Linked DNA regions of Homo sapiens: region 1 is linked to region 2. The links come from fine-mapping of genetic effects on gene expression. Tissue or cell type: whole blood. Region 2 holds a variant in brackets; the other region holds the start of a gene. All regions are shown on one strand. Distances are between the middles of the regions.

The links. PIP is the estimated chance that this variant, and not a neighbour inherited with it, causes the effect.
Region 1: GZMM starts here. The variant in region 2 is fine-mapped to the expression of GZMM in whole blood (TOPMed, PIP 0.95).

Annotation. Positions count from the first base shown.
Region 1 is chr19:540,786-548,785 of GRCh38, reverse strand. It overlaps GZMM (granzyme M), which reads right to left and starts at 4,733. Exons shown (of 5, transcript NM_005317.4): 1 at 4,660-4,733; 2 at 1,350-1,506; 3 at 109-244. The coding sequence starts at 4,714. It overlaps CDC34 (cell division cycle 34, ubiquitin conjugating enzyme), which reads right to left. Exons shown (of 5, transcript NM_004359.2): 5 at 6,699-7,447. The coding sequence ends at 7,234. RefSeq lists an enhancer at 4,720-5,365.
Region 2 is chr19:508,137-516,136 of GRCh38, reverse strand. The region is part of intron 1 of TPGS1 (tubulin polyglutamylase complex subunit 1); the gene reads right to left. Among named protein-coding and RNA genes, the nearest start is that of MADCAM1-AS1, 4.2 kb to the right of the region's middle. RefSeq lists enhancers at 3,377-4,218, 4,219-5,059, 5,358-5,657 and a silencer at 5,214-5,508. The variant G/C (reference allele first, on the strand shown) is at 4,341.

The DNA of each region.
Region 1 (8,000 bases), 33 kb before region 2:
CAGCAGTGCGGGGGGAGGGTCGGCAGCGGGGGGAGGGCGCAGTGGGGGTGAGGGGCACCCGTGGGGGACAGGAGGGTGCCCAGTTCTCCCTGTCCCGTCCCTGCACACCTGAAGCAGCGCGAGGTCGTTCTCCAGGGCAGGGACGGGCTTGTAGCGAGGGTGCTGGATGGCTGCCTTGATGTGGAAGGTGAGACCGGGGCTGTCCAGGGTGTGGAGCCCCAGCACCAGCCTCAGCTGGGCCATCCTGGGGACAGAGGGAATCAGGGTGCTGCGGCCTGGCCCGGCGTGGACGACCCGCCACATGCAGTCCCGGCCCCCACTGTGCCCGTTGTCCATGGCCATCACTCACAGCCGCTGCCCCTCACAGGCCTTGGCTTGGCCAGTCCTTCCCTGTGTCTTTGCAACCCACCTCCTCCAGGAAGCCCTCCCTGCTCTCACCCCTGCCCCAGACTTCTGCCCGGCCCTGGCCCCAGGCAAGGGCTGTGTGTCCAAAAATCCAACCCCAAGCCTACAGCTTCACGAAAACCAGCCCTGGGAATTCCCTTCACTTGGGGCCCCAGGCTCAACCACAGTGATTTGTACAGGGGTTGACACATGCCAATCCTCCTAAGTGTGCCCCAACTTTAGAGAGCCAAGCCCTCTTTCCATGGGACTGAGGAGGGTCAATCTTTCCACCTTGTGAGACAGGCTTCCTGGTAGTGCAGCAGAGCTGGGAGACAGATGGGCTCCACAGCGCCTCCTGTGAGCACCTGGATCAAGCCGCACCTGAAGCCAGGCCTCCTCCTAGACTTTGCAGTTACACAAGCCGGCAGATCCCTTTTTGTTACTTTGACCATCTTGATCTGGGCTCTGTATGACGGACCAGTCCTGAGGTAGGGCAACTCCATGATGGGTCATTTAGCGGCTTCCTGATCCCCGGGAACCAGGTCGATTCCCGAGCCACTCTCGAAGGCCGGCTTCGACCTCCTGGCCACAGGTGGCAAACACCCCCACCTGACCCTCCTTCCTTATAGCAGAAGCCCCCGCCTAAGTTGGGTCCATCAGCAGGTGAATGGACAGACACAATGCACTCTGTCCACACCAGGACTGTGGCTCAGCCGTGAAAGGAGCCAGGCTCTGACCCAGGCTGCGGTGTGGAAGGAGCTGGCCCTGCCAGTGCCTCTTGCAAGGAGTAAACCTTCTCCAGGAGTCCCACAGCCGCAGGTCACTTAAACCTGCCTAAGTCGTCACCGGGAGGGGACGGGGGTCCCACAATGGGCCTAAATCTCCCAGAGCCCACCCCCTGCAGAGAATGGGCGCCGTCGGATGGATTCCCCGGACCCCTGGGGTGGGCAGGGCAGGGTACTCACCGCTGGGCCAGGCAGTGGGCAGCCGTCAGCACCCACTTTGGGTGCACCAGGACACCCCCGCACAGGTGGGAGCCATTTCTCTGCAGTGAGGCCATGTACGGGCGCGAGTGGGGGATCACCTCCCGGCCCCCGATGATCTGGGTCCCAAAGGAGCTGCCTGCCAGGATGGGGGACAAAGAGCCAGGTTGGGGCTACATGCCCCTGCTGCCTGCTGCGACTGTCCTTGCCCAGCTCAGAGGCCCAGGACCCCAAGCAGATGTGCCATCCTAATGAAGTCCCCAGTGTTCCCCGAAACTTTTAGGCTGATACGTGTGGGCTGCCCTTCATCCCTCCCATCCCCCTCTCATCACCCCCATCATGTTCCCCCCAGGCCACCTCCCAATCCCCTCTCCAGGACCTCCCCAGGCCCCACTGGGCCCCACAGCCACAGGAGTCCTTCAAAACGCACATCAGGCCGGATGTGGGTGGCTCACCCCTGTGATCCCAGCACTTCGGGAGGCTGAGGAGGGAGGATCACTTGAGGCCAGGAGTTCGAGACCAGCCTGGGCGACACAGCAAGACCCAGTCTCTTAAAAAAAACTTTTTTTTTCTTTTTTTTTGAGACAGAGTCTCGCTCTGTCACCCAGGCTGGAGTGCAATGGCACGATCTCGGCTCACTGCAAGCTCCGCCTCCTGGGTTCATGCCATTCTCCTGACTCAGTCTCCCGAGTAGCTGGGACTACAGGCACCTGCCACCACGCCTGGATAATTTTTGTATTTTTAGTACAGATGGGGTTTCACCATGTTAGCCAGGCTGGTCTCGAACTCCTGACCTTGTGATCCACCCATCTCAGCCTCCCAAAGTGCTGGGATTACAGGTATGAGCCACTGCACCTGGCCATTTTTTTTTTTTTTTTGAGATGGAGTCTCACTCTGTTACCCAGCCTGGAATGCAGTGCCGTGATCTCAGCTCACTGCAACCTCTGCCTCCTGGGTTCAAGCGATTCTCCTGCCTCAGCCTCCCGAGTAGCTGGGATTACAGAAGCGCATCACCACGTCCGGCTAATTTTTTTGTATTTTTAGTAGCGACAGGGTTTCGCCGTGTTGGCCAGGCTGGCCTCAAACACCTAACCTCAGGTGATCCACCCTCCTTGGCCTCCCAAAGTGCTGGGATGACAGGCGTGAGCCACTGTGCCCAGCAAGAAATGTAGTCTTTAAATAAGTAAATTGTATAGTGCATAATTTCCTAATAAAGCTGTACAAAAATTATTTTAAATCAATCATAAATATAAAAGGATTGATTTCATAATGTAACGTAAATCAGCTCAAAATCTTCTCTGAATCCCCATCATGCTTTGAAAATCAAGTCCCCGCTTGCGGGCCGGTGCAGTGGCTCACGCCTATAATCCCAGCACTTTGGGAGGTCAAGGTGGGCAGACAGCCTGAGGTCAGGAGTTGGAGATCAGCCTGGCCAATGTGGTAAAACCCCGTCTGTACTAAAAATACAGAAATTAAGGCCGGGTGCGGTGGCTCACGCCTGTAATCCCAGCACTTTGGGAGGCCGAGGCAGGTGGATCACGAGGTCAGGAGATCGAGACCATCCTGGCTAACACGGTGAAACCCCGTCTCTACTAAAAATACAAAAAATTAGCCGGGCGAGGTGGCGGGCATCTGTAATCTCAGCTACTTGGGAGGCTGAGACAGGAGAATCGCTTGAACCCGGGAGGCAGAGGTTGTGGTGAGCCGAGATCGTGCCATTGCACTCCAGCCTGGGCAAGAATAGCAGAACTCCATCTTAAAAAAAAAAAATAGGCCGGGCGCGGTGGCTCACGCCTGTAATCCCAGCGCTTTGGGAGGCCGAGGCAGGCGGATCACCTGAGGTTGGGAGTTTGAGACCAGCCTGACCAACACGGGGAAACCCTGTCTCTACTAAAAATACAAAATTAGCCCGGCATGGTGGCAGGCGCCTGTAATCCCAGCTACTCGGGAGGCTGAGGCAGGAGAATCGCTTGAAACCAGGAGGCGGAGGCTGCAGTGAGCCGAGATGGCACCATCGCACTCCAGCCTGGGTGACAAGAGTGCAAGTCTAGCTGTGCCTGCAAGCTGCCTGCACCCTGGGCCTTTGTCTGTCTCACTTAGCTGCCTGCGTACCTTTCCCCCACCGGCTTCCTCCCTTGGTTTATGCTCGTCTCCTGCAACGGCCCCCCACCCGCCCTCTTGCCCTCCGTGTTTCCTCCGCTCTGCACAGTCTCATGCCTGGCCTGTCTCTTCCAGTCAGACAGGAGGGCAGGCCTAGAACAGCACGAGCCCTGCAAATACGGATGGATACACAGAAGCACGGGAGAAAGGAAGGAGGGATGGAAGGAGGAATGGATGATGGATGGATGGGAGGGAGGAGGGAAGGAGGGGGGAAAGGAAGAGAGAGGCATGATGGATGGATGGGTGGATACATGGAAGGAGGGAGGGAAGGATGACGGGTGGAGGGAAGGAGGGAGGTTGAAAGGAGGGATGGATGATGGATGGACGGGTGGGTGGAAGAATGGGAGGAAGGAGGAATGATGGGTGGATGGACTGGCGGAGGGAAGGAAGGGGGAACGAAAGGAGGGAGGGAGGGATGGATGATGGACCCATGGGTAGAGGGATGGATGATGGATGGGTGGGTGGAAGAATGGAAGGAGGAATGATGGGTGGACGGACGGGTAGAGGGAAGGAAGGGGAGATGAGGGAGGGAGGGAGGGAGGGAGGGAGGGATGATGGACCCATGGGTGGAAGGAAATAAAAATGGGAGGAAGGATGATGATGACTGACGGCTGGATTCCTACCTCTGTCCATCTTCTTGGGTCCCCAACTCATCAAGAGCCCCTGTCACTCAGTCCAGCTGGAATGCAGGGGAGCCGCCACCCACCTCCCTTCTCCCTCACTGCTGGGCACCTAGTCCCAGCCAAGCCCTTGGTGGTGGCAGGCAGCCAGCGGGGATCGAGTCCCAGCTCTGCCCTCCCAGCTGGGCAGTCCTAGGTCAGCATCTCCTTCGCCAAGTCTCAGTCTCCTACTCTGCACCTCGGGTGTGAGCGTGACCCCTGCCTTCTGGCTGCTGCCGGGAGGATGGGCGAGGTGAGCCGGTGGACACCACACTCTCCCACGGTCCCGGGATGTCCACTCGGGGTGAAGCGTGAGGAGCTCGGGATGCCCCAGGCCTCAGTCCCCCTCCAAACAAGGATGAATCTCCGCTCTTACACCCAGGATGTCGGCGCCCGCGCCCACCCCTCCCATCCAGGGACCCACCGAGAGCGCTGGGCCTCAGTGTCCCCCCTGCATCCCGGCTCCCACTCACCTACTGACAGGGCCCCCAGGGCCAGCACCAGCAGTGAAGACACGCAGGCCTCCATGCCGCTGTGGAGACCCAGTGTGGGTGCTGGCCCCGGCCCCGAGCCTCCCCACACGCGCTTCCTGTGGGGGAGGTGAGGTGACGGTCACAGCCCCGCCCACCGCTGCACACCCTCCACCCTCCATCCTTGAGCATTTTAGAAAGTGTTTCTCAAAGAGGACTCGAGATGAAGCCACACTACCATCATCACACCTGACAAAGTAACACTTTTTTTTTTTTTTTTTTTTCAGAGATGGAGTCTCGCTCTGTCGCCCAGGCTGGAGTGCGGTGGTGCGATCTCGGCTCACTGCAAGCTCCGCCTCCCGGGTTCACGCCATACTCCGGCCTCAGCCTCCCGAGTAGTGGGACTACAGGTGCCCACCACCACGCCCGGCTAATTTTCGTATTCTTAGTAGAGACGAGGTTTCACCATGTTGACCAGGCTGGTCTCAAACTCCCGACCTCAGGTGATCCACCCACCTCGGCCTCCCAGTGCTGGGATTACAGGCATGAGCCACCGCGCCCGGCCACTACTTCCTGCCTCTGAATTGGTCTCTAGGGACCTCCCAGGAGTGGAATCACACAGGACCTGTTGCGTTGGCGTCTCTCCCAGCATGACGTCCTCAAGGTGCATCCAGGCTGTGGCCTGTGTCAGAGCCTCGCTCCTTTTTGTGGCTGTGTCACATCCCATTGTGTGGCTGGACCACGCTGTGTTTATGCATTCACCAGCGGACGGATATTTGCGCTGTTCTAGTTTTTGGTCTTCATGAATAAAGACACTGGCCGAAGGCGGTGGCTCACACCTGTAATCCCAGCACTTTGAGAGACTGGGGCAGGAGGATCGCTTGAGCCCAGGTTGGGGCTGCAGTGAGCCGTAATTGCACCACTGCTCTTCAGCCTGGGTGACAGAGCAAGACCCTGTCTCAAAAATAAATAAATTTAGGCCGGGCGCGGCGGCTCACGCCTGTAATCCCAGCACTTTGGGAGGCCGAGGCGGGCGATCACCTGAGGTTGGGAGTTCGAGACCATCCTGGCCAACATGGTGAAACCCCATCTCTACTAAAAATACAAAAATCAGCTGGGCATGGTGGTGGGAGCCTGTAGTCCCAGCTACTCAGGAGGCTGAGGCAGGAGAATCACTTGAACCCAGGAGGCGAGATCGCACCACTGCACTCCAGCCTGGGCAACACAAGACTGTGTCTCAAAAACAAAACCAAACCAAACCAAGCAGCTATGGATGATCCTGAGACCTGGGTGTGGCTGTGCCAGTAACACTTCACTCACAATAGGGGCGGACGCCAGGTTTGGTCCCGAGGGCCATGGTTTGCTGAGACCCCAGGGCCCCATTTTCTGTCCCAACTTGGTGGGAAACCTCATCCTCACAGCTCCTCGACCCTGAATCAGCCACTGAGCGACTTTCCGGGTGCCCAGAAGCGGAACGCAGGCAGGTTCCTGGAAGGCGGTGCCCCGGGAGGGCATGGGAGCTCCGAGCTTTCCTCCATGACATGTAATAAAACGATGCTGGGGACTTCCTGACACCAGGACGTGAGGTGCCTGCCCTGTGTGCCCAGGGCCACGGCTCCCCACCCCGAGGGTGTGCCTGGACGGAGCTGGAGCCGCCGGAGTGCTGATCGGGGGCATCTGTGGTCCTGGGAGCCCTGAGACGCTGAGATCAACGCCCAGGCGGCTGTGGACCCGCGACGAAGCTTTGCTGGATGCCTGCAGAGGCAGCTCCCGTCCCACTAGATGCACCTGGTCACAGGGAGGAGGAACTCTGGGGGCTTTCTGGCCGCCCCTGTCCCGCAGGCTGGGGGATGCTGCCCAGGCCTGTCTGACCCAAGTCATGGGAACGTACAGGCCGCGGGACCCGGCTGCTCCCCGTGCCTCCCAGGACAGGCCTCCCAGATCCACACCTGGCGTAGCCAGGGTCCCAGTGGGACTGGCCGTGTGCAGTCACTCATGGACGTGGAGGCTGCCTCTCCCTCCCAAGCACAGCTTCTCTGGCCTCTCATAAAGTAGTTTTATTTAGATTTCAAACAAACCAAAGCAGGGAAAAGAGTCGGCCACGGTGAATCCGTCCACTCTGTGCTGGACGTGGCTCCAGGACCTGGAGCTGACAGGCAGGACCGGGCCCCTCGGACCGCTACACCTGGGCCTCCCAGGCTGGTAGTGTCAGGAAACGGCCCCCCGCCCACGTTCCCAGCAGCGCCCCCGTGGCTCCTCCGGGGTGCGGCCAGTCCGGAAGCTGGGGGACCCCGGTAGAAGTCGGGCTCAGCTCCCCTCCCGAGGGGACAGGTGGGCCGGCCGCTCCCACCCTGGGCCCGTCCACCGAGCCCCGAGTGACGTGAGTGGCGGTGGGGCAGCCCCTCTTCTCTGAAGCACGTGAAAACCCAGAACAGACATGGGGAGGGAGAAAAAGCCAAAACGAAACAACCAGAGGAGACGGGGACCAGCACAAAACCTCCGTGAGGTAGTCTGTCGTCTAAGGAGCCACGGGTCCGGCCCTAGTGAGGTAAACTCGGCAAGTTTATTCTGGTGGTGTCAGGACTCCTCCGTGCCAGAGTCATCCTCATCGTCCCCGAAGCAGCTGTCGGCCTCCTCCTCCACCTCGCCGTCCTCGTAGTAGTCGTCGTAGAAGAGGTCTGAGCCCTCGTCGGGCGCCGGCGCCTTGGTCTTCACGCAGTACTCGGCCAGCGTGGTGGGCACCTTCACGCCGTCACGCTCCGCGTCCACCTTGGTCCCCAGGACCTGCTTCCTGGGGGGACAGGGTGGGTGAGGGCGCCACCCACGTGCCTGGACTCGGCCCCTGCCCGGCCCCCCTCCCCCAGGTCCGACGCTCACCCCAACGCTCAGGTTTCTCTTAAAACGGCGTGTGGCGACCACTTAGGACAAAGCCCTGTGCGTGAGGAACTCCAGGGGGAGAAATGACAGAGGAGGGGGCTCGGGAAGGGCAGGAGGTGCGGGTGGGAGGCTGGACGGGCGCAGTGCAGTCACACCCGCCTGCCCCGCCCCGAAGCACAACCCAAGGGACCCATCAGGAGCTGGGAGAAAATAACGATGCCGGCAACAGGGAGGGCCCATGCTGCCCCACTGGGGGGCAAAAGCCTTCCTCAGCGCAGGAGCAAAGGAAGCAGCTGGGAGGGCCCAAGGACAGGAGGCAGGACCATCCCTGGAGACGGGAACCAGCACAGGTGAGATGGGAAACGCAAAAACGGCCTGAGCCTCTCCGTGGCCTCAGCAGGATTCTAAACCCGGGGGCCTGGCCACCCCGGCCTCCGGATTCTAAACCGGGGGGCCTGGCCATCCCA
Region 2 (8,000 bases):
GCAGCGCCTGTTTACATGTGGCCAAATACTGTGCCCAACATTTAACACAACTGACATTTGTTTTTTTCTTTTCTTTCTTTCTTTCTTCCTTTTTTTTTTTTTTTTGAGACGGAGTCTCGCTCTGTCGCCCGGGCTGGAGTGCAGTGGCGGGATCTCGGCTCACTGCAAGCTCCGCCTCCCGGGTTCACGCCATTCTCCTGCCTCAGCCTCCCAAGTAGCTGGGACTACAGGCGTCCGCCACTATGCCCGGCTAATTTTTTGTATTTTTAGTAGAGACGGGGTTTCACCGTTTTAGCCGGGATGGTCTCGATCTCCTGACCTCGTGATCCACCCGCCTCGGCCTCCCAAAGTGCTGGGATTACAGGCGTGAGCCACCGCGCCCGGCCCTCTTTCTTTTTTTGAGACAGTGTCTCACTCTGTTGTCAGGCTGGAGTGCAGTGGCACAATCTCAGCTCACAGCAACCTCCACCTCCCGGGTTCAAGCGATTCTCCTGCCTCAGCCTCCTGAGCTGCTGGGATTACAGGCGTGTGTTACCACACCCAGCTAATTTTTGTATTTTTAGTAGAGACGGGGTTTCACCATGTCGGCCAGGATGGTCTGGATCTCGAGTGACCTCGTGGTCCGCCCACCTCGGCCTCCCAAAGTGCTGGGATTACAGGTGTGAGCCACTGCGCCCAGTCTGTGCTGAACATTTAACACAGCTGACATTGCATTTTTTCTTTTTTTTTTTTTTTTGAGACAGGGTCTCACTGTGTTGTGCAGGCTGGAGAGCAGTGGTACAATCAGGGCTCACAGCAGCCTCCACCTCCTGGGCTCAAGCGATCCTCCTGCCTCAGCCTCCCAAACTGCTGGGATTACAGGTGACAGTTGCTGCTCGGGGCCAGTGGTGGTATTTCTCTCCCCACAATCCCACAGGCAAGGCCCCACAGTCAGCCTGAGGGTCAAATACGACCTGCTGCCTGCTTTTGTAAATAAAGCTTTATCGGAACATAACCACATCAGTCCGCTGACATGTGGCCTGTGGCAGCTTCCGACCAGAACCGTAGAGCTGAATGTCAGGATGGAGGCTGCCACGCAAAGCTGAAATGTTCACTATCTGGCCCCTTACAGAAGAAGGCTGTCAGCCCTGCTGCCGGCTCTGGGGTGGGTTCGATTCCCTGCCCCAGTGAGGAGCCTGAGGCCTTACTACGTGCCACTCGTGTGCTGGTAGTGTGACACACACTCCCGTGGAGGGCACCAGGGAGTGGCCAGGGAGCACCGTGGCCAGCGTGGGGGCCGCTGCAGGACCCTGGGTGGGCTGCTTAACCCCCTGGCCTCACTCCCCCCATCAGTTCCCGGCCAGGCCTCATGCTAGTGGCCTGTTACTTCCTCTGGGACATATAGGGAAACTGAGGCTCAGGGCAGCCCCATGGTCTGGCCAAGGGTCCCAGAGAGGAAGTGGCCAACCTCAGGGCTTACGCTTTTCCCTTCTGGGAGCTCAGCTTCATGGTGAGGAGGGCAGCCTTCCCTCCGGCATGACCTGGGCACACGACTTCACCTTTCTGTGGGCCACCTGTGGTAGGTGCCGGGGAAGTGCTAAGCCAGCATGCAGTAGGTGCTCAGTAAATGCAGGGTTGGTGTGCAGCAGGTGCTCAGTAATGCAGGGCTGGTACACAGTAGGTGCTCAGTGATGCTGGGCCAGAATGCAATAGGTGCTCAGTAAATGTGGGGCTGGTGTGCAATAGGTACTCAGTAATGCTGGGGCGGTGTGCAGTGGGTGCTCAGTAAATGCTGGGCCAGTAAGCAATAGGTGCTTAGTAAACGTGGGGTCGGTGTGCAGTGGGTGCTCAGTAATACAGGGCCGGTGTAGAGTAGGTGCTCAGTGAATGCAGGGCCAGTACACGGTAGGTACTCAGTAATGCTGGGGCGGTGTGCAGTGGGAGTGAAGTAAATGCTGGGCCAGCATGCAATAGGTGCTCAGTAAATGTAGGGTCAGTGTGCAGTGGGTGCTCAGTAATACAGGGCTGGTGTACAGTAGGTGCTTAGTGAATGCAGGGCTGGTACATAGTAGGTGCTCAGCAAATGTGGGGCCAGTGTGCAGTGGGTGCTCAGTAATGCTGGGTCTGTGTACAGTGGGTGCTCAGTAAATGCTGGGCCAGCATGCAATAGGTGCTCAGTAAATGTGGGGCCGGGGCAGGTTGGTGTGCAGCAGGTGCTCAGTAATGCAGGACTAGTGCACAGTAGGTGCTCAGTAATGCTGGGGTTGTGTGCAGTGGGTGCTCACTAAATGCTGGGCCAGGATGCAATAGGTGCTCAGTAAATGTGGGGCCAGTGTGCAGTAGGTGCTCAGTAAATGTGGGGCTGGTGTGCAGTAGGTACTCAGTAATGCTGGGCTGGTGTGCAGTAGGTACTCAGTAATGCTGGGCTGGTGTGCAGTAGGTACTCAGTAATGCTGGGCTGGTGTGCAGTAGGTACTCAGTAATGCAGGGCCAGTATGCAGTAGGTGCTCAGTAATGCTGGGCTGGTGTGCAGTAGGTGTTCAGTAATGCAGGGCCGGCATGCAGTAGGTGCTCAGTAAATGCTGGGCGGGTGCACAGTAGGTGCTCAGTAATGCTGGGCCGGTGCACGGTGGGTGCCTGGTGAACACGTGCCTCCCTGGTCATCACTGCTGCTCAGTTCAGGGCTTAGGGATGGACGTGCCATCTCAGCGAGCTCGAGGGTCAAAGCTCTGCTATGGAGGAGGAAACTGAGGCCCAGAGGCAGGAGGGCAGCGACCTGCAATTCAACTCTAGGCCCATCTGGCTGTACGCTCCTTTTCCCTCCCAAGTAGTAAAGGCCCCATTTGTTGGCCCTTATAATCCGCTGGGCGCTTTTACCATCCATGAGGTCATCCCCAAAATGCGCTGGGGGCAGTCGCAGTGTCAGCGCGGCGGCCCGAGCTCCCATCACGCCTGACCTCTCCGCATGACCCAGCAGGAGCCGCACCGGGGCCCCTCTCATCAGGATCTGCTGTGAGGCCGGGCAGGCTGCTGCCGCCTCACAGATCACACCCCAAACCTAGAGGCCCAAAACCAACAAGCATTTACTATTGACACAGCGTCTCGGCGGCGGCTTTGCTGCGAGGCTCTGGCTTGGGGTCTCTTAGGAGGTTGCCGTGGCCACACTCCCCCGGGGCTCGACGCGAGGCGGCCCAGTCCCCCGCAGGGGAACCCGCGCGGCTCTTGGCAGCGGCTGCAGGTGCTCCCTGGGAGCTGCGCGAGCGACCCCACCGCATGGCGGCTGCCCAGCCGAGCCAGCAACCCACCCAGGAGGGAGGGGGACACCACGATGTCCTTCGTGACCCGCCTCGGAGGCCACACTCTGTCCGTTGCTTCTGCAGTCCCGTTCCGGCTGTGCAGGGGGAAGGGACGGCACCAGGCCGTGAACCCCGGGAGCCGAGGCTTGCAGGGGCATCTCGAAGGCTGGCGACGGCAGCGCTGCTCCGCGGATCCCTCCGCCACTTCTCCACCCGCCACTTCTCCACCCCGCCGAGGGTGAGCCTCTGGGCCTTGCTTTGCCCCCTGAAACGTGCGAGGGGGCGTGGCCCACTTTCAGCGGGAATGTTAAGAGCCATCGTGCTACTTCTCAGTCCACTTCTCTGTGGTCATGATTGCAGGTGCGTGTCAAGATCAGACAAGCCCTTGGTGGGGGGTGGGTGGGGGTGCCGTGGCTCCTGCCTGTGAGCCCAGCACTTTGGGAGGCCGAGGCAGGAGGATTGCTTGAGTCCAGGAGTTCGAAACCAGCCTGGGCAACATAGTGAGATCCTGTCTCTACAAAAATTTAAAAATCAGCCAGGTGTGGTGACGTGCGTCTGTGGTCCCGGGTACTTGGGAGGCTGAGGTGGGAGGATCCCTTGAGCCCAGGCGGTCGAGGCTGCAGTGAGCTGGGATTGCACCACTGCACTGCAGGCTGCGTGACAGCAAGACCCTGGCTCAAAAAGAAAACTGGGCCAGGCACAGTGGCTTATGCCTGTAATCCCAGCACTTTGGGAGGCCGAGGCGGGTGGATCACTTGAGGTCAGGAGTTCAAGACCAGCCTGGCCAACATGGTGAAACCCCGTCTCTACTAAAAATACAAAAATTAGCCGGGTGTGGTGGGGGCGCCTGTAGTCCCAGCTACTCGGGAGGCTGAGGCAGGAGAATGGCGTCAACCCAGGAGGCGGAACTTGTAGTGAGCCGAGATCGCGCCACTGCACTCCAGCCTGGGTGACAGAACCAGACTCCATCTCAAAAAAAACAACAAAAAAACAACTGGACGTCCCCTGCAGAGTAAGCGAGAAGAGTTTTGCTTGTGTTGAAGCCACTGAGGTTTGGGGTTGTTG[G/C]TTCCTGTCGTGCTCGCAGCTTCTGACTGACAGGTCTGTGGGCCGGGATTACCCAGCGCCATCCACCACCACTTCTGCATAAATGCTCTCCTCTCTGGGGGCGGCAGCCCTGGTCCAGCTCCGCAAGCATCCACGCGGCCCCTCGGTGTGCAGGGCTCTGTGCCTGGCCCAGGCCTGCCTCGGGTGTTCGTCTGCCCCTCCCAGCTGTGTGCACTCTCCTTTTCTGCACCTGGCCTTGTGCATCTACGGAGTGGGGGTTCTTGTGAGGACGGGAGAACGGGGCTGGAGCCAGGTGCTCAGGACAGCAGCTGGCATACGTGTGGGAGGCCCCACCTGCTTATTTTGGGCTGTAATTAGGGCTGCAGCTCAGCCACAGCTGCCTTGAGGGGCAGGAAGACACACAAAGAGGTAATTACAGCCTGGTGAGATCACAGCCATGATGACGGCAGGAGACAGGAAGGTGACAGCCCACTTCAAGGCGGCCGCATACCCGCCCCTCCTGGGCTCCCGGGCGGCTCCCAGCAGAATCATCGGGTGAGGGAGGAGGAGGAAGAGGAAGGCAGCAAGCTCTGGGCTCGGAGGAGGAGGCCGGGGCTGGAACGTCAGCTCTGCCTGTGACGGTGGCCTCTGGGCCTTGGTTTCCCTGATTGCAAAATGGAAAGCGGGAGCCCAGCCAGGGCTCCGTCTGTGTCGGCTCCTACACAGAGCGGTTTGTAAGGCGTGTGAGCATTTGTTAATACAGGAAAGATTCTATTTATGGAACGTCTCCAGAAAGAGACAGGAGCCACCCTACACCTTAGACTTCTGCTTCCCACTCCTGCCCCCAGCAGACGCCGGGCGGTGTCTGGGACATCTGTGGTTGTCACGACTCGGGGAGCTCCTGGCAAGGAGTGGGTGGAGGCCAGGGACGCTGCTCAGGGCCCTGCAGTACCCAGGACGGCCCCCAGAGGACGAGTCGGGGGAACCCTGGCCCAGATCAGCTGGGGCTTCGTTTTCGTGCACGTTTTCCTGGCAGTGACCTGCAGGGGGCAGTGCAGCCCTTGCTGCCAGGATGAGCAACGTGGTGGCTGAGGAGGCCTCCGGGGCTGCACTCTGGGGCTCTCTGACCCCAGCTCTGCCCTCGGTGGCCGTGTGGCCTTCAGCAAGTCATGTAACGTCTGTGTGTGTGCTCCAGGGGGCCTTGGAGACGACCAGGAAGGTGGCAGGAGGGGGACACTGTGGCTGCCATCACCAGCCCTGGCGGCCGGAGCTTGCCATTTCTCAAAAGAAGGTGCCAGGGAGGATCTGGGGTGACTTCTCCCCCAGCCTACCACGGTGATGCTCTCAGGAGCAGCCCCAGTCAGCCCCTCAGCCTTTGGGGGTCAACACACTGGACTGAGTGGGGACAAATCTGCCAGGCTCTGAGCTTCTCTTTTTTTTTTTTTGAGACAGAGTCTCGCTCTGTCGCCCAGGCTGGAGTGCAGTGGCGCGATCTCGGCTCAATGCAAGCTCCGCCTCCTGGGTTCATGCCATTCTCCTGCCTCAGCCTCCCGAGTAGCTGGGACTACAGGCGCCCGCCACCACACCCGGCTAATTTTTTGTATTTTTAGTAGAGACGGGGTTTCACCGTGTTAGCCAGGATGGTCTCGATCTCCTGACCTTGTGATCCGCCCGCCTCGGCCTCCCAAAGTGCTGGGATGACAGGCGTGAGCCACCGCGCCCGGCTGCTCTGGGCTTCTCTTCCTGACTGGTCAGGTGACCTCAGGGGTTCCTGACGGTCCAAGGATGGAGGGGCGGCCGGAGCTGCCTGCTGGGAGGACGGGAGCAGGCCTGGCTCCATGAGCACAGAATCAGATGCCACGCAGGTCTGTGCACCTGTCTTCTGCATTCCCCACTGGCTGTGTCTCTGGGGAGCCCAGGCGAGCCCAGGGCCGGGATGCATCTGCCACCAGCACCACCCTTGCCCTGAGTCCCTGCTATGAGAACTCTTCCAGCCAATGGCTCCACTCCTGTCCTGGGGTGACTGGTGCCCACCAAACTCACGCCCATCCAGAACCTCAGACTGAGAGCTTATTTGAGACAGCAGCTTTGCAGATGTAGGCGGTTGAGGTCACACTGGAGTAGGGTGGGGCCTAGTGGTGTCCTTATGAGGGAACACAGAACAGAGACACACAGGAGGCCACGTGACGACGGAGGCAGAGACTGCAGCAATGTGGCCACAAGCCAAAGACTGCTGGCCGCCACTGGAGGCTGGGGAGGCAAGGAAGGCTCCTTCCCTGGAGCCTCCAGAGGGAGTGTGGTCCTCCTGACACTCCGATTTCAGACTTCTGCCCTCCAGAACTGTGAGAGAATAAATTTCTGTTGTTTTAAGCCACTAAGTTGGAGGTAATTTGTTCCAGCAGCCCTCGGAAATTAATATAAATATAAATATCCTCATCTGCAGTGTCTACGGGGTGAGTGGCTTGTGCAGTGCTCAACCTGAACAACCATACGTGGTGGGCCTGCTGTTGACCCCTTTTCCTCCTTGGGAGATTCTCTTCCGGATGTCCTGGGAGGCCATCTTCCTCCTGCTCCCCGTTCACCTCTGGTCTCACGTTCTCACCCTCTCTGGTGGGCTCTCTGGGCTAGGTGCCCTCAGAGTGGGGTCCTGAGCTCTTCTCATCTCTCCTGAAGACTTCAGGACCCCTCCAGTTCAGTCTTCTGTCCTGGCCCCACGTCAGTTGCAGACGCTTCTTTCTACCTTCCTGTCTCCAGGCTCCTCCCAGCCTCCAACTTAATCCGCAAGTGGCTCTGGCAGCTTCTTCAAACCAGGGGCCTTCCATCGCAGTAAACGGCTCCACTGACCCTCTGGGCCTGCCCTTGCCCGCTCCCCTCCCACCTGGCTCCAGCAAATCATCGGGCGGGGCCTTCAGAGCCACTGGGCCACCGGAGCAAGTCTGCTCCTTGTCCAGGTACCCAACACCCTGCCACCCTTATCTGAGTATGATCTTGGACACCTGTGCACCCTGAACGTGGTAGGGGGGACACTCCCCATCTCTCTTCTCCCCCCGAACTTCTCTGGGACTCTGGCGAGGGCTGCCATGGTGGGCGCTTATGCCCTGGTTATGAGGCTGAAAGGGCACCTTTGCTTGGCATCCTTCCCTGCCTGCTCTTCCCACCCCCTTCCTGGGTTCTCTTGGGCGCACCCCCTTGTAAAATCACCTGCACACACAATGCCTACCTCAGGCTCCGCTTCTGGGGACCCCCCCCCCAACAAAAGACATCAGCCCATCCATCCCCAACGCCAACAGATAGTCCCCAACCACCTTCCCTGGGCTCAGAACTGGCCCCAGCCAGGGGACACCGCGCGTAGGCACCTGCAGCCTCGCATGCTTCAGCCAAATTCCGTGGCTTTCCCGCCTCCCGTGTGCCCCACACTCGGGGTCTAAATTTGCACCTGCTGGGCCTCTTCCCTGCAACCCGCCCGCACATCGCCAGGCTCTTCCAGGAATCCCCACCTGCCCGCTGGGAGCCTGTCCCCTAAGATGGGGGCCCTGGGTGACTGCGCTGCTCTCTGTAAATATTCACGTTCTGGCTGAATGGACGGGGATAACATGAGGCTGCTAAGGAGGCGACTAGGAGGACCTGGCTCGGGGGCTGGCTCTGCGACCTCGGGCCAAGTCCTCTTGAGCTGCACGATTT